Regions from separate parts of the Homo sapiens genome. Here all the other regions are linked to region 5. The links come from fine-mapping of genetic effects on gene expression. A gene starts in region 5. Each other region holds a variant in brackets. All regions are shown on one strand. Distances are between the middles of the regions.

Region 1 (5,185 bases), 110 kb after region 5:
CAGAAAGCAGGTAAATTGGGAGAGAGCGGGGTGAAAAGAGTGACAGGGCGACATCACTCTGCGGAAATTTCCCAGGAGGAAGGGGACAGCGATGGGGACAGGATCTTGGGTGGCGGGGAGGGGTCTGGGAGTTGCAGCCCCTCCAGGACCTTCTCTTCTCCCCTGTCCAACTCCCTCCCGCCGGCCCCACCTCTTGATTCCGCGGACCCAGCAGGGTCGGCCGCTCTGCCTCAGCCCTGCCGACTAAGAGGCGCCCGGCCCGGGGCCCGCAGCTGCCTGCGCCCCCGCCATCCTCCCCCGGCCCGCGGTCGTCCCGCACTCACCAGGAGCACGGAGCCGCGCACCACCTCAGACACGCTCTGCCGCAGCTCGGCCGCCGTGCCCGGCTTACTCAGCGCCCGGGTGAACTTCCGAGTCTCCGCCGAGGCGGGGAGCAGCGGCGGCTGCGACATCCTCCTGCCCCCGCCGCCTCCGCCTCCGCCTGCTCCCGCGGCCCGGCCCGGCCGCGCGGCCGCCAGGTGCGCCCTCGGCGCCCGGCCCGCTCCGCCCGCCGCTCCCGGCGCCGCCGCCGCCTGCTCCCCCCGCTGCTCGCCGCGAGTCCGGCCGCCGCAGCCCAGGCCGCGCCCTCTGCACCGTGTCACGCCCCAAGGCGCCCCCCTCGGCGTCCGCGGCCCCCCGCGATCGCAGCAGCGCCCGGGCTCGCTCCGGGCGACCGTGCGTGTGGCGGCGGCGGCTCCCCCATGCCACCAGCCTCCCTCGGCGACCACTCGCCGGGCCGCCTCCTCGGGGCGGGGTGTCCGGCGCGGCGCGGGCGGGGCGGGGCGCCCGGACGGCGGAGGAGGGGCCGCCGCGGCGGGACGGCGGGCCAGGCAGGTCGGCGCGGCCCGGCGCTGGAGCTAGGCGGCCGGACTGGCAGGGGCGGCGTGCCGCGCGGGACCCTCACTGGGGAAGGTGGGGGGTCGGGGCCGCCTCCGCCCCGGGCCGCACGTCCGAAGACCGGAGGAGGGGACTGCGCACGCCACCAAGAGGGCGCACAGCCGAGGCTGGACGATGCGCGGTTTCGGAGCAGGGTTTCCTGCCCAGGGAGCCCGGCTGCGCTCGAGGGGACCCCGAAGTCACCGGCAGGGTCGGAGCTCGGTGCACCACGCCCCCCCTCTGCGCCCGGGGCCTCTGCGGGGACAGAGGTCTCAGGAAAGTAGCCTTTATTTATGTGGCACCGATCGGAACCCGCGGCCGGCCAGGCGGACCTGGACGGAGCGTCCCTGCTCGGAACCTGGCGCGGGGCGCCGCGCGCTCGTGTGGCGCCTCGGCCTCCCCACCGTTCAGTCCCCGGAGGCACGGAGCTCGCGGCGGGACGATGACGGTTGGGCCGGGCCAGGCGTGGGAGACTCCCAGACTCCGGCCCGCCGGGACGGCCAGCTGCGTCACCTTGGACGTGGGCAATACTTCGGAGCCTCGGTTATGTCGCCTGTAACCTGAGGACAACGGCCTGGAAGGGGCTCAGGTGACACGGCGGCCCTCACTGGGGCCGATTTAGCCGGTCTGCCGCCCCTCCGCGCCGGACCGCCAGGCGGGGTACCAGGGAAACTGCGATGCGCCGGCTTGCGAGCCCACCGTGACGCAGAGCTGGCGGCCGCTAGCGACAGCCACCCTGTGAGGGACTTTCCCCCCAATACCCTAACCGCTTTCCTGTCCCTAAGGGCCCGCTCCCGCCCCGGCTCCGTTTCTGTCTCTCTGAGGAAGCCCGGCGCAGCCTAACCCTCACAGGGCCGCGGAGAGGGCGCGCCAGGCGGGGATTTGCGCCAGGCCCGCGGCGCATGCTCAGTGGTTGGGGACTGGGCGGGTACCCCGGGCGGGGAGCCTGACTGAACGGCGGCTCTGCTGATTGGTCGGGCTGCTCACGCCACGCCCGTTGCCTTCCGATGGACAGTTCCTTACCTGCCGGGTCGGCCTCCGCAGAGAGTGGTGGTCTTGAAAACCCAGTTTTGGGAGAATACCTGCCGCGCCTCCCGCCCAAATACCCAGAGGTTTCATAGCCGCCATCGCTGCGGTGGAGGAGGCCGCCTGTTGCGTCCCACCCCACCAGAAAGCCTAACACTGGCCTGAAGCGTAATCTTAAAGTGGTAGGGGAAAATACCGATCTAGCGCAGAGAGCAAAACACCTCCGTTCTGGGTTTAATGGGCAGGTCTGGAGGTGAGGTATGCCGTCCGCACTCAATAATTACTTGCAGGATCGGATTGTTTCTCCAGTGGGTGGGGACTGCAGGATGTAGCATTGAGTGAGCCTGGCAGATTGAAAGATAAAACAAGGGTGATGATAAAAACAATTACACACTAACCCATTTCCTCCTCCGTGAAATGAGGGAATGGCCCAGACATTTTCCAGACCTCTTCTGTCCTAAGAGTGGAGCTGGGTGACAGAGCAGGTGCAAGCCGGCCTTTCCCTGCCTCCCCGGGGAACGCACTCTGTTCGGTGAGAGCAACTCAGCTCGCATTGACTCCTTTCAGCTGCAGGAGTGTGGCCGTTCAGTTCTCATTTGAACTGTTGACAACAGTTGTCTTCTGAGAATCATGAGTTAGAGCCTCCCTTTAGGCTTCTGACTCCCTCAAAAGTACCAGACAACACAAACTTTTCCCCTCTTGTTACCTTGGCTCTCTAAGCTGTATCTACTTCTATACAAGGCGAACAATTTTGTCTTTTTAAATTAAAAACAACAACAAAAGCACCTAAGGTTGTAGGGTTTTATATTCTTTTTTCTTTTCTTTTTTTAAGAGCTATATGATTACAGTAG[AGTGTGTGT/A]GTGTGTGTGTGTGTGTGTGTGTGTGTGTAGTCTAAAGAACAAAATTTCAACAAATGGTTTTAAAGATCTAATTGGCTTCTATTAGCAATGCATGAACCAGGCAGCATTCTGACTACAAAATAGACGGGAGCTCTTGTGGGAATGGAAGAACAGCTGGGTTTTGTTAAGGTAACTTAAGCAGGAACAAGGGAAAAGCATAGTGCCGAAAGCACATCGGGTAACTTCAGGTTACTCTCCTTTATGGGTTAAAGCAGAGGGGGCTGCCTTAGCTGGCTCAGGCTGACTGGGCCCCGTTTGACTGGTTGCTGTGAATCTCCTGGTTTTTGGAAAACTGGCCCTTTTGGGGATTTTCCTGTTTTTTAAAATCTCTGTTTAGTTACGTGGCACCTAACACAGTGGCTTCATTTTAGTCTGGTCTGTTGGGGCCTAGTTCAGGAGCTCAGTCCAAGACAATGACCTACCATAAATTTTATTTAAATATATGTATATCTGGAAAGTGAAGAATTCCCCAAACCTACCAATTTTATCCATATCTCTACCACTCCTAAATTCTGTACTTACTTGCTGATTCAGTATATTCTAGAATTGGCAGATTTTCATTTAGGAAGCAGAGAACAACAGACAATGTGCCAACAGTAGTCACTGGCAATGTCTAACCAAGCACAGGTTCTGACAGACAAGGCGGCATGGAAACGTGAACTAAGCCCAGGAAGATGGACCCAGCAACCCAGAGTGGAGCCTCTTCTTCCTGGTGAAGTGCTGTTGATAACAAATGGGACATTCCTAGTGTTAAAGTTTCAGCAGAAACTTGGTCCCTACTGTTCTGGGTTGAATTGTAGTCCCCCAAAAGATATATTGAAGTTCCAAACCCAGTACCTGTGAATGTGGCCTTATTGGAAATAGGTCTTTGCACATGTAACCAACTTAAGGTGAGGTCCTACTGGAATAGGTGGGCCCTAATTCAGTATGAATGGTTGTTTGTTTGTTTGTTTGTTTGTTTGTTTTGACAGAGCCTCACTCTGTTGCCCAGGCTGGAGTGCTGTGGTGCAGTCTCAGCTCACTGCAGCCTCTGCCTCCCAGGAGGCTGGGATTACAGGCACCTGTCACCACACCTGGCTAATTTTTTGTATTTTTAGTAGAGAAGGGGTTTTGCCATGTTGGCCAGGCTGAGGTCAGGTCGAACTCCTGACCTCAGGTGATCCGCCCATCTCAGCCTCCCAAGGTGCTGGGATTACAGGCGTGAGCCACCACGCCCAGCCTGAATGGTGTCTTTATAAGAAGAGACACAAATACATACACAAAGGAAAAATACTATGTGACAACAAAGGTAGGAAGGAGAATACTGCACACCTGCAAGCCACAGAACAGCAAGGATCACTGGGAACCACCAGAAACTGGAAGAGGCAAGGAAGGATTCTTCCCTAAAGTCATCAGAGGGAGCATGGCCTGCTGACACCTTGACTTCAGAATTCTAGCCTCTAGAACAGTGACAGAAGAAATTCTGTTGTTTTAAGTTTGTGGAACTTTTACAGCAGTCCTGGGAAACCAACATGCTGGCCAAAGGCTATTTTTAAAATTTCCACCAGAGTGGGCCTGGAATTGTGTGAATTCTTTTGGCATCACTATTTCCTGGAGAGCAGTCATACCTACAGAGGGGCAGAGCATCAGCCCAAAAGAGGGTGCTACCTGGCTACCTGGGATGAGGCTGACCTCTGGCTGGACTGGGTGGATGGTGTCTCAGGTACGGTAGAAGATACATCCACCTACATTAGCTTGATGGAGTAACCTCATCTTTGTTTTTCCAAACTATAGGAAGAAAGCTTTTCTTTCTGTTGAAAATTATACTAGTAGGTAGTGGAGATGAAATATAATTGCAGCCAGTTCTGAAATTTGCATGTAAATGACTGTACTACACCCAAATTTATAATTCAAGCATTACTCATGTTTAATGATAACCTCTTACTACATCATTTCCTTGTTAAGTTTGCTTTAGGATTTGTATGTGTCTTAATAACATATAATTAGTTTAAAATCTTTTCTGGATATATCTTGAAAGAGTATATCTGTTTTTAGCAAAAATAACAAGTGACCCATAAAAAGGAGGCACTCCTGTGCACTGTCACAGGGAAGTGTGAAAGGGGACTTTCGTTCTTTATTTTATCCTTGCACTGATTGAATTTTATTTATTTATTTATTTTGAGACAGATTATTGCTCTGTTGTCCAGGAAGGAGAGCAGTGGTGCCATCATAGCTCGCTGCAGCCTTGAACTCCTGGGCTCAAGCAATCCTCCCACCTCACCCTGCCAAGTAGCTCAGAGGACAGGTGCATGCCACCACGCCCACCTAATTTTTTTTACTATTTGTTGATACAGGGTCTCACTATG
Region 2 (5,000 bases), 70 kb after region 5:
GAACATAGAGGACATCATGTTAAATGAAGTAAGCCAGGCAAAGAAAGGCTAATACTACATGACCTCACTTAGATGTAGACTCTAAAAAAGTCAAACTTACAGAAGTAGAGAGTAGAATGGTGGTTACCAGGGGCTGGGGGTGGGGTTTGGAGAGATGTTGGTAAAAAGATACAAAATTTCAGTTAGCTAGGGGGAATACAGTATAAACATGGTGACTACAGTAAATAAATAGCTGAGAGTAGAACTGAGTTCTCACCACAGAAAATGTTAAGTATGTGAAGTATTGCATGTTACTTAGCTTGATTGAACCATTCCAATTTTAAAACATCATGTTGTATACCCTAAATATACGGAATTTTTGTCAAAAAATGCATATATAAAAAGAGATGCCTCACCAGCTTAATCATCTTTTTAAAAACAAAACAAAACAAAACAAAAAAAACAGCAGCCGGGTGCGGTGGCTCACACCTGTAATCCCAGCACTTTGAGAGGCTGAGGCGGGCGGATCATGAGGTCAGGAGATTGAGACTATTCTGGCTAACACGGTGAATCCCCATCTCTACTAAAAATACAAAAAAAAAAAAAAATTAGCCGGGTTTGATGGCACGTGCCTGTAGTCCCAGCTACTCAGGAGACTGAGGCAGGAGAATGGCGTGAACCCGGGAGGCGGAGCTTACAGTAAGCTGAGATTGTGCCACTGCACTCCAGCCTGGGTGACAGAGTGAGACTCAGTCTCAAAAAAAAAAAAAAACCAGCATCACTGTGTCTAGAATTCACAAGACAACCAGGAAATATCTTAAGCAACGACAGAAAAGGCAGAAATGTATGTCCCAACACTGAGCCCAGGCTCAGCACGGGGCAGAACAAGCCGAGCGACCTCCCACCTGGCATATCTTCACTTGGAAGGTGGGACGCACACCAACAGGTTTTGCTGGAATGATGCCCTCCTGCTTTGAGTAGGAGGATCCTTAACTCCAGGGCCATAACACATTGCACAACCAAGGGCTTGGCCTGGGCTTTGCCACTCACCCATGAGATTAACAGAGGAAGTAGTTTGTTGGTTTTGAGGTTTTCAAAAGGAGGAAGGATTTTGCGCCCAGTATGCTAACCTCCTTAGCTGCGCTCCGGAAAACAGCACTTAAAGGGTTGCCCAACTTGTGGGACTTGTCTCGACAGTAAACACCTCATAGAACATGCCTGGTTATGAGGGGGCACACCTGACAGGAAAGTCCAGGACTCACAGATGAGGGGCCTTGAAGAGCCACTGTGAATCACTGCTGTGTTATCACATACTGTGTGTAAGTGCATGGGTGTAAAATAAACACACACAGCCTGGAAACCTGTTTTATTCAGAGTATAAGCTCAGATGTCAACATCTTTCTCTGCCTAGATCTATCACTTACTTTACTTTCATTCTTACATCTAACTCCTGACCTCTTAATCCTCCTGAAGACATCACCAGAAATGTCTCATACTTCATGCCTGCGTTTAAGGTACAAAGTGTAGCTTTGGATAGGTTTTTAAAAGGTTCCTGTTTAGGTTATGCTCCAAAGGAAAGCCCATCTTGACACTTCCTCTCCCATAAGGATGAGCGTGAAGAGAGCCAAAGTTGGACGAGTCCAGGTTTAATCTCCTATCTCTGATGATTAAAAGACAAAATATTTATTTAAAACACGGCCAAACAGCCACTGACATCTGTGCAATTTTTGGTGGCTATGTTGGACTATTCATGGGGGTCAAATAAATAAAAATGGCCAAGCCTATGAGTAAACTTTTCCTCATGGTAAAGTTTCCCAAGATAATGTGCTAATTGAAATACACGCCAGCTGACCCTAGAAGTAGGGCCTATTTAGAAAATTTTAAAAGTACATATTTTTTATTTCCTCAGAAACACAGCCTTTTCTGTGTATAGATTCAGGCTCTCTCTGGATGGGGCAGAGAACCACAGGCTGAGGAGTATCAGCTGCCATCGCAGCACATAAGCACGTCTGTTACCATCAGGGTCCCCAGGTTAGAATAAGGAAATTGTCTTTCTACTTTTAAACATTCTGGGGCCTAAGAACATCTTCTTAGTCTCATTTATTTTCACTCCTTAGGTGTTGTCTGAAAATAATGAAAGTCAAACTTTTTCTGAGAATCAGTGGTTCTAATC[CT/C]TTTTTTTTTTTTTTTTTTGAGACGGAGTCTCGCCCAGTCGCCTAGGCTGGAGTGCAGTGGTGCCATCCTGGCTCTCTGTAACCTCTGCCTCCCACCTTCAAGCCATTCTCCTGCCTCAGCCTCCTGAGTAGCTGGGACTACAGGTGCACACCACTATGCCCAGCTAATTTTTTTTTTAATTTTTAGTAGAGACGGGGTTTCACCATGTTAGCCAGGCCGGTCTTGAACTCCTGACTTCAGGCGATCCACCCACCTCGGCCTCCCAAAGTGCTGGGATTACAGGCAGGAGCTACTGCGCCTGGCCCTAATCTTGAAGCATCAGCCTCAAGCAACCACCTTTCCAGGAAAGTGTCCCTGGATACAAACTCAATGTATTGTTCTCCCTCCCTTTCACTGGCCTTTTACAACTCAATTCCTGCCCTCCTGTATAATACCCAACAGCAGAGCTCCTAGGAGTCAAATCCTGGGCTCTGACACAAAGTTTCACCCTGGGCAGGCCTCCAGTTTGGGGGCAGCACCAGGGACCTCAATGTCAGCAAAATCACGAATCAAACACTGATGTCCGATGACAGTTCTCACTGAGAACATATTCCATTGTATTTTAAAGTTATGGAAAATCTTCATACGGTGTTTAAAAGTGTTCATGTGCTGCTTCTTGGTTTACAGTTTTATCTGTTTTGTTTTGTTTTGTTTTGTTTCTGCCGGCTCAAAGCCAACAGCAGGATTTTCACCAAGTTTCCAGTTTTGGAGTAAGAAGCACGCCTGAAGACAGCCAACCTGGAGACAGCCTGCGTGCACCCCAGCGGAGCTTCCCCAGTTACCATTCCCCTCTGCTACTGCTCATCTTCTCATCACTCTTATTTGTCCCTACTCTAGAAAAGAAAATAAGAAGGAATTTTGAATAATGCATGCTCTGTGTTCATCAGTGTTCATTAACGTAACAAGCACATAACTAAAAATACAATAATAGGGCTTATCACGGAAAGCAAGGGTGGCCTGGCTCACCCACTCCACTCCCAGCCCTGCTCCTCGGAGGCAATTCCCTTCCATATTTTGGTGCTTCTTCCAGTGTTTGCTCTCCTCCTGCTGCCCCCATAACTGTAACATACAGATTTCTCAATTTTATCCTTTCCAAATATTTTCAACTGACTTTCTGCTATGACAAATGGGGACAGCTCACATGCAACACTCCCATCCTCACAGTGCCACTATTTCTCATTCTCTACAGTTCTCTTTGTAACTGTAAGCACTAATATACTTGTACCTTTATTATTCCATCACTGACCACTGCTCGGGACTTCCCACTTTGTTAGGTAAAGACTTCACACCAAAAAGCGAAATTCAAATCCCTGACATTAAGCTCTGCTACTAATAAACAGCAAAGCTTAATAAGCTGAATAATCATAGCTAAGTACAAATAATGAATATAATAATAATAAACAGCTGAATAAGTCTGACTGTGGAGTTCGTGTTTAATTTTTTGTTTGGTTATTTTCTGTATGGCTAAGAATGGAAAGAAAATGAATAGTTAAAAATATGTTTTGGCATTGTACAGACTTCAATCAATCACTCTGTTTTCTGGACCCAACAGAATCATCAATGACTACCCTTACTCAATTCTCTCATTACTCAAGAATTTTGGAGATGAAACCCAACTGTGAAATGAAAATTCTTAAATGGTAATACTGTTCATCTGAGTATGTTTACAGTACTTCTGAATCCACATACCTTATCACCCCTCACCTTCCAACCTCAGAATATCTGGCCAAAAGGAGGTAGCAGGCAATGCTGAAGGCTGCTCCTTGGACAGGGGCAGTGTGGTCAGCCTTGTCATCGGGAGGCATGGTGTGGCCATGGAGTAAGGACATCTTAGAAAAAGACAACTCTAGCTGGGCATGGTGGCAAACGCCTGTAGTCCCAGCTACAAAAAAAGGAAAAGAAAAGAAAAGAAAAAGACAAATCTGGACTGAGGGAGTGTGTTAAAGGCTACTGATGTAACAGCTGAAATTTTTTTTTTTAAACAGGGTCTTGCTCTGTTACCCAGGCTGGAGTGCAAAAGCACAATCATGGCTCGCTGCAGCCTCAACCTCTAGGCTCAAGTGATTCTCCTGCCTCCCACCCACATAGCTGGGACCACAGGTGTGCGCCACAGCGTTCAGCTAATTTTCTACAATTTTTTTGTAGAGACAGGGTTTCACCATGTTGCCCAGGCTGGTCTTGAACTCCTGGACTCAAAAGATACTCCCACCTCAGTCTCCTAAAGTGTTGGGATTACAGGAATGAGCAACCACACCCAGCCAATAGCTAAATTTTTGAAAGCAGGACACATACTGTATTATCAGATAATGATCCCTAACATACAAAACTGGATTTCATTAGGAAATGATTGATCTTTCCAGATAATGAATGCTGCAGGTTCTCTCCTAGGCCAACATCTTCATGACATCTAAAAATACAAGAAGCAATTATGCTATAGATTTAAAAAATTGAAATATGATATGTGAAAATACTGAAAATAACCTATGGAGCTATCAAAGTTTATGGAGGATATTTAGGTTTCAACATGTAAGATGACACCTGCTTGCATGTTGGATCCTGTCTAAAATTTCAAGCCATGGACAGCAAGTAAAAACAAATCAAAAATGGAAAGACACATAGCATGTGTAGTTTATCTATGTCACAGAGCAAAAATAACACTTTGGTAATGCTTTAATTAAAATCAAGTACCTAGAGTTCATTCCATATTTCAGGCCTGTAGGAGAAAAAAAAAGCAAAACCACTTCCCCTTGCAGTGATACACGAATGGAAATATCCGAGACAGCGAAACCTGAATCAGCTACAAACAG
Region 3 (5,000 bases), 130 kb before region 5:
CCAATTCAAGTTACCACCACAAAACCCATTTGCAGTGGGAAGAGCTGCTGCATATCCGAGTGGATTAAGGTTATTTATTCACATGTGGACCATTCATTTAATTTTTGTTTTCTGTGTTTCCTAAATGATTATCATTGGAGGTGCAGCACTGGTGTACTTATGATTTTTTAAAAAGTGCTTCAAAGTTTAAGCATTTATTTCAACCAATAGTGAGTTAACCTCTGTGTTATAGAAATTATCTGAGCAAAGGAGGTCCAGCAGGTTCTGTTTATCAGTGGGGATTGAATTTCTGCTGCTAAATGGCAAAGAAAAACTAAAAATAACAAACTCCTGGTTTTGTTCCAATCCCTTTCTGCAGAACTAGTCAAAGCCCCAACAGAAAAGATGTTAAAAAATCAAGTACTGTAGCCTTAAAGGTGTCACTCAATTTGCATTCTACAGCTAAGTGTAGAACTCAGAAGTAGCATTTTATGGCTACCAACTCCGTGTGGCAGACTGACATTATCTAAATTAAGCCTGGGATTTTATCAAGACAGACTATCTTCATAACATTTTTTATTTTTTTTATTTTTTTTTTGAGATAGGGTCTTGTTCTGTCACCCAGGCTGGAGTGCAGTGGCACAGTCTTAGCTCACTGCAACCTCAGCCCCCCAGGTTCAAGTGATTTCATGTCTCAGCCTCCCCAGTAGCTGGGATTACATGTGTGTGCCAATAAGCCTGACTAGTTTTTGTATTTTTAGTAGAGACGGGGTTTCACCATGTTGGCCAGGCTGGTCTCGAACTCCTGGTCTCAAGTGATCCACCTGCTGCTTGGCCACCAGCAGCTTGGCCTCCCAAAGTGTTGGGATTACAGGCATGAGCCACCATGCCCAGCCAATCTTCATAACACTTAAACTGCACCCGGACAATCTTCATAATGCCCACGTTGCTGGGTCAGAGGTGTGGGAAGCTGCTTTGTTTTGGTTCCTCAGGTGTCTTACTTTGAACTATTATTAATACAATGCATTGGGAACACTGCCTTTACTGTTGGCCTGTATTTTAAAAAGAGGTGTGAAAAATCACAGCGAATGGAATTTATTATTAGACATGATGGAAGGATATTAATAACCATGTATTAAAGACAGCACTTGGAATAACAAATAATTGTTGAGATAAAACAATAACTAGCTGTGTCATGCTTGGAGAAGAGATGGAACAATTTAGAGAACACAATGCTAGCAGAAATGGGTATTATAAATGATCTCATCAATTTTTCACGTGCTGTATGGTTGATATCTTTCAGGTGTTCTGCTTTGAGAAACCCTTAAGAAGATAAAGCACTTAAATTACTAGAAACAGCACACAATGCCTTGTCCCCTCTGCTGACTGATAAAAGTAAATTAAAAATATGCTCCCCTGTTCTGGCAGAATCTCTTTTGTAAAGTTAGAAAGCCCCAAAGTTAGGAAGGCAAGATGAACAAAAAGGGTCTTGGCTTGCAAGTGAAGCAACCTCATAAAGCAGACTTCAACCTGATTAAATCTTACCATTGTCTACAGAAATTCCAAGCACACTTGATATCTTTCTCACACTGAAAACACAGAAAAAGTCACTTTGTTATTGGATGCTTTTCCACACCCTCACAAATTGATTCATGGGCTTTATGTTTTCACAGTAGTGCAAGGATTAACATCCATTCAGAGCTGGAATGTCAGAATGTGGACGCTTGATCAATTACATGCACAGGATCAGAAGGGGTGAAAGAAATCCATCCCGAATGTTCTCAGAGTTGCAGGGGAAAGCCAACATTAAGTCGGTTCTAGGTGATGAATCCAAATTTTATGTTTAGAATTCTTGAGAACGGCTGGCTATGGACCCAGCCGAGTTTTGTTTTAGGGATGCAGAAAGGGTCAGGCACTTTTAGGTTTAGTGCTGTAGTTGAGCACGTTCCACATTGTGTCACTCCCAAATGCTGAGGACGCTCCTCCAAGGAAGGGAACTGTGCCATGAGCTCTTCATCCTACTTGCTTTGAGCTAGAAGAAAAATTGAGTTGGTGATGTGGTAGGTGTGGCCTAGGGCTCTCCCCTCTGAGATGGCACATGAGATGGCTGGCTGTTACGATGGCATGTCATGGGACTTACTGTGGTTAAAAGTGAGAGAGTTATCCAGGCTGCCCAGCTGCTGCAATCTGGCATGCATCATTCCTGTTCTGTTACGGGAAACAGGCAATGTCTGAGACTTTCGATCATGAACTATGGGTCCCAACCCCTCCTGGTTCCTGCAACATGAGTGAAATGGGATAGAAGCAAAAGTTAGACGTGTTACACTGCAGCGAGACGGGGAGTGTTAGTGAAGCCAGAACATGGCACGAGGGAGATGGCCATGCACTGACTGAACACAGTGGAGCAGCCAGAGACACAGACAGGCGGCAGCTCCTGCACACTTCACGGCAAAGCACCTGATGATCCAGAAGCAAAAATCAGGCCAAAGCAGGGACCTTTTTATTTTTAGAAAGTACTTTAGAGATGCTACTCTGAAAAAAGTGAGCATCACTCCAATGCAGTACTAATGGTTAGTGTTCTGACGACTGTCAAAACGTCACTAATCTTTTTGGATTATATATGTTCTGAAAAAGCAAAAGACATG[TA/T]TTTTTTTTAATTAAAAAATGCATTGGAAGACACAGAGAACAAACATGCAAAGGAAGGGATTATATGAGTTTTAACACCTTTATTCTTACCCAAGCAGGAAGGAGAAGAGCCACACACTTTGTTAAACTTGTCAGCAGTCAAGTAGAGAAAACAGAAGAGTGATTTGGGTTAGCAATCAAACAGCTAACTTCCTGCTGTGTACCATCACCAGAGCAGATGAAAATGAGACCAGGGCTGCAATGACACCTGTCCCCTGTCCCGGAGCCAACCGTCCCCCTCACTGTGTTATTGTGTGTAGGAGAACAGGGACATGCATGGACTATCATCGACTGCATGCTGCTGGGTGACTTCAAAGTGACAATAAGAAGGCACAGTGTTCATCAAACTCGACCACCGTGGATGGCAAACATGTACAAGGTTCACAGTCTAGTTCAGGATCTTTTTCACATGCAGCAGAGAACCATGGCAATTTTTGTATAGAGCAGAGCATATCTTTCCACAGTGCATGGAGCAAAGTCACATCATCTCCACTCCTGTTTTCCTTGGCCCATCTATTTTTAAGGCAGTCCACACTTTTATATGCAAATATATACAGGGTGCTTATGAAGTAGGAAGATTTTCTTTTAAGAAGTTAAATTTATATCCACTGAAAAAAATACGTTAACCATTTCACAAAACCCGATTCTAAAACATTTTGTTGGGACAGAAATCTTCAGCTTCTCACATTCACTGTTTTAAGCTGTGAGGCATTTTATTCTACTTGGCACAATATTCTCCAAATGCCATCTTGTGACGTAGGTGTCACTGCAAAAAGTGAAGCTAGCCCAGCACAGTGCCTTTCTGTGACAGAATTTACTGTTTGCCCATCTTCATGGGACAAAGTCAGGGAGAATCCAAGTCAAGGTAGAAGACGTTGCTGGTATAAGGACACCTTGTATATACTTGCATTTAGTACTCCAAAACTCAAATATAAAATTACTGTTGTGATAAAAAATAAAACAGTTAAGATTAGAGAACTTTAAGTGCTACCACATTTCAATGAAAAATAGAAAATATTAATAGGAGGAAAATGCAAAAATTCTAAATTTGCTTCTTTTAAAAAGAAAACATACATGTTTACTTCTTAACATAAAATGTAATTCTGAAAATTTCTCAAATATCCCCAGAAAAGAACAATGTTAACAGAAAAAGAAAATCTTCACAAAGAGGAAGTCTACTAAAAATCTCTGGCCTATTTCATCACTATAAGACAAAATTGTCGATATATAGAGAAACAAACCTCAATGACAATTACATTTTTAAGTTTTTCTTAAAACATGTTTACTTATAATAAAGCTGTTAAAAACAACAGTAAAAAAATATAATACTTAGACCAAGACCCCACTAATACAATAACACAGAATGGCTCACAACACAGAAAAAAACAAACAGACAATCTGAATGGCAGTGGGGCAGGAGGAAGAACTTGGTAAGGACAAGAGGTGCTGCGAAGAAACGCCCCCAAAGAAGGCGTGTCCAGCCACACAGCTGCAAGGAGTTTCTAGGAGGCTGGTTCTGCACAGGAAAGTGGGAGTGACGCTACTCACCAGGGAGTTCTGGCCAAGAACATGGAGCGTTTACCAACTAGTCAAGAGTAGGAAGAGAAAAGGCTCCATTTTAGAGAAGGTTTGTGGAAGTCCACACAAATTTGGGATGGACTGAAAACATTCTTTCATTAAGAAAGAAGAAGAGTGGTTAGGTGAGATTTTAGTATCTTTGTAGTTGGGAGCAGGAACAGTCAAAATGACCTTGGAAAGTCAAACAGAGGAAGAGAAACCACTGAGGAAGGAACATAGGAAGAAGAACTGGGGAGAAGAGGATGGGAAGGAGACAGAACAGAGAAGGAGGGGGAGTTTGGACGAGAGGATGGAAGGGTAGACACAGCCCGCTAAAGGAATGCTTTCCAAGAGATAACACGTGAGGTGAAATGAGACTTCGCCGGTAGGAATGCAGACCAAAGACACTGCCAGGCTCTGCGGTGGCAATCCAAGGGCCTGCCATCAGTCCCCATGGCCGCTTCCATGAACCCCAACTGCCAACCGCCACTGATGACCAATCCCACACAATCAGAGCCAGGCATCACAGAAAACAACACGTTTCGAATGAAAACGCCCCACAGTACCTGGCTATGTATCGCTTCCCCATGTACTGGAACTGGTGCAGGCAGACTCTGCAGGCAAGATGAAAAATTATTAGGGAAATGCAAAGATAAAATTATTTTCGGGACGTTATTTATCTGTTAACAATAACAAATTCAATAAACATTATGTCTAGTACCAGCATAAGTCACATCCTCATTCATTCAGAATGGTTTTTGGGAGTCCTCTGGAAAGTG
Region 4 (5,000 bases), 79 kb before region 5:
CTAGCAAAGAAAATCAGTTTCAAAGGTTCAGAGTGAACTCTTTAGGATGTAGCAGCAAAACAGCATAGAGGTTAAGAACACAGACCCTCGGGTGAGACTGACTTGGGGAAGCTGCCGGCCCTGTGATGTTGCACACATTCCTTGCTCCCTCTTTGCCTCATTGTTATGGGTTGAATTGTGTCCTCCAAAAGCATGGTGAAGTCCCAACCCTTTGTACCTATAAATGTGACCTATTTGGAAACAGGGTCTCTGCAGATGCAATCAGTTAAGATGAGGTCACTAGGCTTGGCCCTGATGCTTTATCACTAGTGTTCTAAGAAGGGAATTTAGACAGAGACACACAGGAAGAGGACCATGTGAGGCCAGAGGCAGAGTGGAGCAATGCTGCCACAAGCTAAGCAACAACTGGTGCCAGAAACTTCCAAGTTAGAAACCTTGCAAGTTATTTATCTTAGACTATTACCACCCCAAGCCAAGACCCAGTCATCGTATCTCTTTGGCACGACTTGAATTTGTCCCCTTCTTCCTGTTTGCACTTGCAGTGGCTTTGCTGAGTCCTTTCTCACCTCTTGACAAGGTTCCTCAACTGTTTCCTCCCCACCATAGGCTCATCCTTACCCAGTCCACCCTTCACAGCACCACCCAAAACATCCTCTACAGAATTCAAATTAACTGGTTATTCTTCTGATTTTCACCCCATCTTTCTTCTCAAGGGTTTGAGGAAATGCTTCACGCTCATTTGCCATCCCCTCTGATGTCTAAATCGAGCAACCTAAGTGACTGCTCCCCTGTTCCTCCCTCCCCACTACACAGCTTCTATTTTTCAGGTGTGGAAATAAGACCTTGAAACTCACTTCCGAAAGTCTGCAAGTAACTTGAGCATGTCATCATTGGATAGCTTATTGCTGTCTTGCCTGTAGATGGCAGAAAATCTGGCATTTTTGTCAAGATTTCCAGATGCATCCTTAAACAATGTCCTGAAATGGCAAAGCAACATTTCTAAACTGGGTTTCCAAAACACCAAAATCAATTCATTATTTAAGTCTAGTTTCTATGAGAAGTCTAATTATTATTCCATTGGCTATAGCCAACAGAAATCTCATTATCTAAAAACATGGAAAACATCTATGGGGATGAGGACAACTAAATCAATTTACATAGAAAACAGTTCCAGCCAATGGCTTGTGCTTAGGAAACAATATACACAAGTCAAATGCTTAACAAGTAGAGTCAAGAGATAAAGATCACCCCAGGCCTCACTGGATTGCCCTGACTTCCAGCTGGAGGCATGTGGTTGGGTCCTTGAATCCCAGCTCTGCAGCTAACACTACCGTGCACCCTGCCAGTTCCAGGTAGCACTTCTCCAGACAGTGTCTATCCTCTCTGTGACTCTACCAAATGATTTTTTCAAAATCTGGGCTTATGTATTTCTCAGTTTTACACATTCAAATCCTCTTTGTCTCTGAACAACAAACAGAATAGGCCTATTGACCCATCCATGCACCTATCTATATCGATTTAAAAGGTATAAAAGGTGTTCCTTACCTTGCTGCCCAAGCAAATGGCATTCTATACTGTCCTAGTCTTTGGCATGCCTGCTTGGCATTCTTCAGCACCTTCTGGGCCACCTTGAAGACATGAGAATAAAGCTATGAGATACTGCATCTCACTGAAAGAACTGTGACCTCAAGAGCCATCCTTACATGCTCACTAAATAAGTCCTTACCATAGCATTGGATGCATAGAAAAGCACATCATACAGTAATGAATATGGCTGGATTCACACTCTGTGCAGAGTACTTTATTTAACGCATTCTCTAGCAGTGATTCTCAAAGAATACAGAACGAAGACTTTCCAAAATCCATGTCTCTTCTTTGGTCTTTACGGGCAACAAACATGCTGTTTCAGAGGTTTTCATACATCTTTATGACTAAGTGCTACTTATTATAAGTCTACTGAGTTATTAATAATTACTATTTGGTATCCATATCAAAATATATCACATTATTAGGATTGAAATGAGAACACTAATTAAAATACTAAGCTTTCACAGCTCCTAAAGCGCACTAGCTTATGCTGATTCCCACAATATAAGGGATAAGATATTAAGATACTGACTTCAGTTAGGCTGGGGTTCTCAATGCTATATTCTTGCTTTCTAAACATGAATTACTGCTATTTCTACTTCCTAATGATCAATTTTGGTTTGTTGTTGATTGATTGATTAATTCACAGTGTACAATGAAGCTTATTTGCTTTTAGCCTAAGGCAGACCTATTATTAATCATCTATACCCCTATTGCTAAAAAAGATAATGCTTAATTTTTCCAAATTTGTCTGTACTGTGATAGTGCTTTGTCATCAATGCAAAGTTTGATTGTCTCAGAGTTACAGTGAAGGGTCTTTTACATTACTTA[A/AT]TTTTTTTTTTTTTTTTTTTACTGAAGGGTCTTTTACATAAGTATATCAAAGTCAAACCAATTTTGGGAAATGTACTCCAAAACCAAAGTGTGCTATAGCATCAGCATCACTGTAGAAATGCAGAGTCTCAGGCCTTGCCCCAAACTTCCTGGATCAGAACGTGCGTTCTGACAAGACCTCCGGTGATCTGTGTGTACCATCAGCCACAGGAAGGATCTAGAAGGATCCAGAAGGATCTAGATGACAGAGCTGTCTGTCTCTAAGTCACACTGAATCCAGCTGTATGACTCTGTAGGCCATCAAACCTCTCTGAGCTCCACTATCCACACCTGAAAATGGGGGCTAGGCTATACTTTTCATGATCCCTTTCAGTTGCAAAACTTTATAATCCTACCATAATCATGCTGTAGGAACTGCTGCCTTCATGAGTAACCTGGAAAATACATCCTAATTGGAAGAGATGTCAGGGAATCATCTAGGACCTCCCCCCTTCTCCAATGAGGTATGTTCTTGCCTCCCTGGGTGGGGCGACTTAGTGGGGTCTTAGGTGTATGAGTTATAGGGTACAATGGCCTACCTAGCTGCAGGGTCAATTTACTTAAACATTTTCAGGTTCAAGATTTTTTGGTTCTAACAATGATGAATATGTTGTGGAGTAAAATGCAGTAATTTCATAAAATTTAAAGCTAAAACATAAAACATCAATAAGCCTTTTCTGCAGTGAATGAGGACTTAGCTCTCGGACATATGAAGGGAGCAAATAGAACACAGTATGTGTGAAAGTCAGAGTAAGAAACTTATTTTTTCCCTTTGGGCTTTTTTCCCCTTCTTTTTCTTTTTAAAACCTCTATTCACAGGAGATACCTACAGAGACTTTTCATAAAAATTTCCTCCAAAATGAAAATTTACTCTAAATGATGTTCTAGACCATCTTGGAAAACATGAAGAAACAACTTTGACAGACAGAAAAAAATCATCTCACTGTAACATCTCTGCCAAAACTGTGCTAAAGTAAGATAGTTGAGCCTTAATTCCTGCTTTAATTGAATGCTTTGGAGGTGGCAGAAAAGTAAATGCATGAATAATGTACACATGGATGAGCTTTACATTCCATAAAAAAATGAAGAAAAAGCAGACTTCAGCAGATGCTCAGTGGACATGGAGGAGTGTGCAGAGGTAAGTTTAGCCTACAGTGATATGTGATTTTTACACCAATATGAGCTGCCAAATTTCAAACCATGCATGCGGCAGGCAGAAGTAACAAAGTTGCTGTGGATGGGCCTTGGAAATGTGTTGCATACACGGTCGGGGGAGGAGATCTTATATTGGGCCTTCATTGATTATTGATCAAAACATAAAAGAGCTAAAAGAGCTTCTCATCCAAGGTTTTACAGACTTGGTTTAAAAAAATAAAACAGCTTCTCTCCAGAGACCAAACTTTACACAGCTTTCATCAGCCAAAAAGGCTTACTGTTGGAACCAATGTGCCTGGGTAAATGGGCTTTTACTTGACTGGGGCTGTAATAAATGACGATGTCTTCTGGGCTTTCTGTGATTTATGGTGCCCACAGCACTGACTCATACATGATCTGTTTGATCCTAACACTGTCCCTATGAGGAAGGCAGAGGCAAGAAGTAACATCATCCTTCATGCACAGAAGGAACATATGGAGGCCATGAGAGGTGATGTGATTTGTCCAAAGGACCCAGATGAGTTAAGCATGCAGCACCCAGGTCTTCTGACTCCAAAATCCATTTCTCAATGGCCATCGTGCATCCTGTGGACACAGCTGTGATGCATGGGCGCCCATAGAGGTGAAGATAGGAAGCTCTGAATCCAACTTAGTAAACTTCACTCACAGCCTCTGGGGTATCCACTCCTACTGCTGACCAGTCCTTGTCAGTGAATTCAGGCCTCTCAGATGACCACACAATTTTTTTTTTAAATAACTAAAAATATGTAAAACTGGCAAGGATAATAGCACTTAACAGATTACACTAACCAGGTAGCACAAGGTGCTACGAAGTGGCAGTCAAGTGCCCCCTGGCAGCTCCAGCCATGAGACACTGAGCAGATCACTAAGCCTTGGTGAGCCTCAGTGTCCTGAAATATGAAAGCACATCTTGGACTAGATGACCTCTAATATTTAATAATTCTATGGTATGTCCATGCCTAGGCACTTCCCAAGTAATGAACACTACTTTGAAAAAAACCAAACATACATCATGTATGTTTTCTTTCCATCTTCCACCTAAAACTCTGCCCCTTCTAGCAAAAACCAAGTGGACCTGAATCACTGACACTGCTGGCCAGGTCATCTGAGCCAAGGGCATCTCCTGGTCTCCAGCCTCATATATAAGTGTAAGTGGACCAAAATAGAATTTCAGAACCCAAGAGGCAAATTAACAGATAGAAGAAACTCTATTTGAATATCATACATGTACCTTCTAACACAGAAAGTTTACTATTAAGCTGGTAATTCCTTTGCAAATTATTTTAGGATGTCAGAACTGTCTAGTCAAGTGGATCATTTTATTTACACATAGGACTACATTTCCTTCAAAATCAAGACATAAAGTT
Region 5 (5,000 bases):
AGTCTGGAAGTATATACACTGAATTATTAATAATGGTCACCACTGGAGAGTAAAAACAAGGACACTGTCTTTCCTACTGCTACACTATTTGCATTTCTTGTTTTTCCTACTTCTATACTACACGCATTAATTAATTTTATCCGTTTTAATTTATGTAATATTTTTCCCCAAGGACTGTTTCTGTACATAACTAAAAACAGCAAAACTTTATTTCAAAATGCTACCTCCTGAATAAAGCATGTTACCTACATTTAAACGTCTCTAGGTATAATGCATTCAAATGATAGACAGTCTTGGGGATTCTTACCAAGCCCGTGGGCCACTGACATTCGAACAATGAATAGTACTGCCACAAACAGGTTGCACAATGGTGTCTGCCTCCTTCTGAAAAATCATCTTGAGAAACAAGTTGCCTTTCCAGCAGTCTGTTGAACTCTTGTTTGCCAGTGGGCAGCAACAGCCACAGGTAAGAGATCTGCCCTCGGCAAAGGCCCTGCTGAAATATCCTTGCTTCCCTGATCTGACATTAGCTCTTCTTATCTTGTTTACCCTGCTGGAAGAAGAGAAACACTGCCCGATAAGAAAAAACTTCTGGTATCACTGTTGGCTTCCTCACTCCCTCACCCCTCTCTGCAGGTGCGCAGAGCTGAGATCACACTGCCACAAGCTGCTGGGCCCTGACAAGTGTTCCCACCAAATGCAGCTGTAGCCAGCACAGCTTTATCCATTGCAGTGGAAAAAGACCCCCAGAGGAACTGCCTGGAGTGAGATTTACCTAAACAAATAGCTAGGACATAAATGGCAAATTTCTTGAGCACTAGAAAGAGAAGTAAGTTTAAGAAGTCACTTGTGTGCTTAAAAAAAAAAAATTGCATAGCATCTTTCTACAGTGTATTCAGTCCTGTAGACAAATATTTCTACACAGCTGGAGAATCACTGACAGAAGATTTTTAAGAATATTCACAAGGGAACCTAAACCACACAACTTCCTCCAAGAAATCCTAAGTTACATCAGCTGCTTTAAGCAGTGAAATCCATACAGCCTGTGAGCAACCCAACAGAGAAGTGGGCTATTATATTGGCAGCAAGGAATCCAGAACAATGAATTACATTTCTAAACAATGTAGCAGAGGGTGAAGAAAAGAAACCTAAATCTCTAAGATGAAAATCTGCAGTGAAAAAGACCATGATATTTTACTAACTTTTCAGTTCAGGGTTAGCAATATAGTTTTGAAGGCAATAAAATATAGGGCAGTCTCACGAGTCACAAAGAAAGCAACTCAGTTCAAATCAAATCTGTTATAGGAAAGTTTAAGTTCAGATTCTTAGACATTAATTGAAAATTAAGTAAATTAGTAAGCAAACACTTCATGGTAACATCAACTGAACCTCCACGTTAAAGAAAAAAAAAAATCACTAAATAAAATCACTACATATCAGTTTAACAATCTCTTTAGCAGATAATTTGAAAGGCTCAATTGTCCCCCCTCTGCAGGGCATGTTGGTGGTTTTGTGCAGCTTGCTTAAAAAATTATGTGCCTTTATTGTACTGAAGAAATTCCGAGAGAAGCACAACCTACTCACTGATGATAACAACACAACCATTTTTCACATTCCTCCCCTCCAAAGTCCACCAAAGCACTTGGCTTTAGACAAATGCTGAGAGTTTAGCTGATGTTAAGAACAGAAACGTTTCTATCAGCTGGTTCACAGTTTAGGTTCTTCCCTACTTTATTCAAGGCAAACCTCCTGGTAAAATGAGTGAGAAGAACATATGTGATTTTATCCTTTCTAAACTATGTAATATTTCCAACAGTTATGTTCCTTAAAACCCCCAATGGGACCTGCCTCATTTTCTCAATAGCATAAATAACGTAGAAAAGGTTTTAATTTTGCAAAGCACATCTTTTTTCAACCCTATAGTTGCAATTAAAATATGCTTCCTGGGTTTACATTTGCAAACACTGCAGCTAGGTGGGACATAATTGTGAACAATACATAATTGTCCCATACAAAGAAACCTCCCAGAAACCATATTCACCCACAAAATGTCAACATTTCTTTCTTCACAAAGAAGAATCAAAGGGGAATCGAAGTCATATTACAGGGAAAGAGTGGAGTTCACAAGGGACAAGCAGAGCAAGTTTTGAAATCAAAGACAGGCAACAGGCGTCAACCCCGTCCACACGCACAATAAGAACCCAGCATTGGGTAGACACAGCAACACTTTGTACGAGACCCTCTTACCGGCACAGGGCCCGGGCTCTCTGCTTCCACTTCGCCCTGAGCTGCATCCTTGTATTGCAGGGGGGACTCAATCACCAGTTCCTTTTTGACACTTCTACTACTTGTCCTGCATTTATCAGCCTGCATTCTCGGCTGAAAACGCAAGTCAGAAAGTCTGCAACTGGAACAGCTGCGAGTCCCTGGCCGTGCAAGGCACAGGCATGCCAGTGGTCCAAGGAAGGAAAGGAAACTGGCTTCCCAGGCACAAGTGGTCAGCCCCGCTGGCTGGGTCTGCAGAGCCTGTGGGGTGGGAAGGCATGACAGCAAAGGCCAGCCTCCAGGGGTGTTACTACTCCATGCAAAAGGGGAGGCTCCTACTTGCTGGCCAAAGGAAAACAAACTCCAAGCTGAACAATACACAGTGTACTGCCTCTCTGATAAAGACCGGCTTTATTGTGTCTGTTCCACACAGCGTGGGCCAAATCAATCGGAATCAAAATACTGCAGTGTTTAAAAGAAAACCAGTCACAGTTAGACTCCTTCATAATTACCTTAAATCTGAAGCTCGTGGAGCTTAAGAGACAGCAAGGTTGTCTGCTTGTTCTAAAATTCTTCCAGTTTTGGAATGCTTTCATTTGTGTTATGGTTAAAAACCAAATGCCTGGCTGATGATTAAAGCAGGGAAGAGCTACCAGCAAGTATGTTCCCATAGCCTGCACCTCGTGGATACAGGTGGAGGAAATGAGTTTCACCCCGCATGACAGACCACAGCATGAAACACTTAATTTATGTACTATTTGATGCCAGAAAGATGAGGTCATCAAAACATTTTCATGGGATACCACATATCATAGTAAATGCATTTATTAAACAGAATATTACTTTAAGTCCAGATGTGTGGGTATCAGAAGGTACCCCCAGTACTAGGTGCTGAGAGGATCATACTAAAAGTATAAGGTAGAGTATCTCTCCCTTCAAAGAACTTCACATCTAGCTGGGAAGGCAAGAAGAGCAGACATCATAAATGACAAATTAATAAAATTAAGAGAGAGATGCACAAAAGCACGGGAAAATAGCTGGATCACCAACCTACGGTTCAATGGTGGTTTAGTAGCACCCAAAATATGTGTTCCTAAAAGTCTGTATTTTTATTATTTCCTCACATTTAACAGTGGAGTCTTTTTTACCTCTTGGGAAAAATTAAAACAGAGGTATTAAGGGATTTGTCTAAAAGTTATGTAGAAATGAACATTAAAGGGGGGATCAAATATTACTCTGTACTTCATGGATACCGCAGAGCTTTTCCTAGTTACTCTGAGTATTTCCTGGACATCAGGGAAGATTTAGTAACAGTAGACAACAAGCAGCAGCAGCAGCAGCAGCCGTAGCAGTAGCAGTAACAGCAGTAGCAGCAGCAATAGTAGTAGTAGTAGTAGTAGTAGTAGTAGTAGTAGTAGTAGTAGTAGTAGCAGCAGCGGCGGCAGCAGCAGCAGCAGTATTCAGTCAGTCAACAACGAGAGTAGTTATCATGTAGCAACAATAGGTGCCAGAGGAACTCTACCCAGGGAAATAACATAAACTATTATACAAGTCACAGGTAAAAGTCTCCCACTTTCCAGACAAAGGAACGCAGCCAGGAGGGCTCAGAGGAGGCAGTGGGGAGAACTGAGATGCCACCCAGTCCTCGCACAGCCGCCTCCCTCTCCTAGCACCTGCTGCAGCTGCTCTACTTCAAGAGTGAAGCTGAAGCTGGGTCTCTGCCACTTGAACACCAGGAACCCTTCTGAGTGTGAATATCAATTATGTAACGATCTCAAAGGATCAATGAGTCCATCAAATAAATTAATGGCTTCTATAATTTTTTTTAAACTACCCAATCTCTCAACCTTGGGTAGTCTTTCAGGGTTAATAGAAGTCCCCCTACCAAATCTGTGTTCCAAAATAATATTATCTATAAATTTTAAAAATCTTTCTTTGTAAAGTTACAACAGAAAAAACCCAGTAAGAAAAAACTCTCACTTACCTATAGAGTCGAAATTATAGTAAAGTAAAAACTTAGGAATGTCCTACAAATCAAAGAAAGGATGAAGCCACAAGCACAAAACAGACTAACTGAGCCTTAGTAAAGGACAGCCCAACCAACAACTCAGAAACCTTTTTGAGATGGTTCAGGAAGTTCTAAATAGTCCAGTTCTTCCTCAAATCCCCATCGCCATTAAGCCATCAGAATGTCTGGGCATTAATAAGAGAAATGCTATTCTATTTGTTATTGTTGTTGTTTGAGACAGGGTCTTGCTCTGTAGTCCAGGCTGAGTGCAGGGGCTCGATCATGGCTCACTGCAGTCTTGACCTCCTGGAGTCAAGGATCTTCCTGCCTAAGCCCCTCAAGTAGCAGGAACTAGAGGTGTGAGCCACTGTGTTCAGCCTACCCTATTTGTTGGGTCAAAATACCCTGGTATTCTGTAAGGAATGAGAAATGAACTTTAAGATATTTATTTGACAAACACTGTAAGTGCTGGCTATGGCCCATGCCTGTTCAAGCCCTACAAAGATTGTTTATTTAATCTTCATAACTCTATGTAATACTGTTATCCTCATTTGACAGATGAGGAAACTGATGCCCAGAGACGTTAAATACTTGCAGAACGTTATACAGAGAGCAGGGGCAATATGGATCCAGTGTACACACGCTTAACCATGATACTATGTTCAAACTGCTAAAAGGCACAATACCAATCACCAGTCAGCAATTAAAGACAGCAGCATCTGGCTTT

What was found. PIP is the estimated chance that this variant, and not a neighbour inherited with it, causes the effect.
Region 1: its variant is fine-mapped to the expression of DOCK9 in whole blood (INTERVAL, PIP above 0.99).
Region 2: its variant is fine-mapped to the expression of DOCK9 in whole blood (INTERVAL, PIP above 0.99).
Region 3: its variant is fine-mapped to the expression of DOCK9 in blood mononuclear cells (TOPMed, PIP 0.96).
Region 4: its variant is fine-mapped to the expression of DOCK9 in whole blood (INTERVAL, PIP above 0.99).

What each region holds. Positions count from the first base shown.
Region 1 is chr13:99,085,900-99,091,084 of GRCh38, forward strand. It overlaps DOCK9-DT (DOCK9 divergent transcript), which reads left to right and starts at 824. Exons shown (of 1, transcript NR_047482.1): 1 at 824-2,726. It also overlaps a transcript of DOCK9 not described here. RefSeq lists silencers at 156-635, 676-985, 1,076-1,135, 1,716-1,945 and enhancers at 826-1,387, 1,950-2,509. The variant AGTGTGTGT/A (reference allele first, on the strand shown) is at 2,793.
Region 2 is chr13:99,045,365-99,050,364 of GRCh38, forward strand. It overlaps a transcript of DOCK9 not described here. Among named protein-coding and RNA genes, the nearest start is that of DOCK9-DT, 39 kb to the right of the region's middle. The variant CT/C (reference allele first, on the strand shown) is at 2,153.
Region 3 is chr13:98,843,805-98,848,804 of GRCh38, forward strand. It overlaps DOCK9 (dedicator of cytokinesis 9), which reads right to left. Exons shown (of 53, transcript NM_001366683.2): 37 at 4,788-4,835; 38 at 2,120-2,256. Among named protein-coding and RNA genes, the nearest start is that of DOCK9-AS1, 14 kb to the left of the region's middle. The variant TA/T (reference allele first, on the strand shown) is at 2,625.
Region 4 is chr13:98,896,634-98,901,633 of GRCh38, forward strand. DOCK9 (dedicator of cytokinesis 9) reads right to left here. Exons shown (of 53, transcript NM_001366683.2): 14 at 1,546-1,628; 15 at 855-977. Among named protein-coding and RNA genes, the nearest start is that of DOCK9-AS1, 67 kb to the left of the region's middle. The variant A/AT (reference allele first, on the strand shown) is at 2,419.
Region 5 is chr13:98,975,537-98,980,536 of GRCh38, forward strand. It overlaps DOCK9 (dedicator of cytokinesis 9), which reads right to left and starts at 2,528. Exons shown (of 53, transcript NM_001366683.2): 1 at 2,248-2,528. The coding sequence starts at 2,373.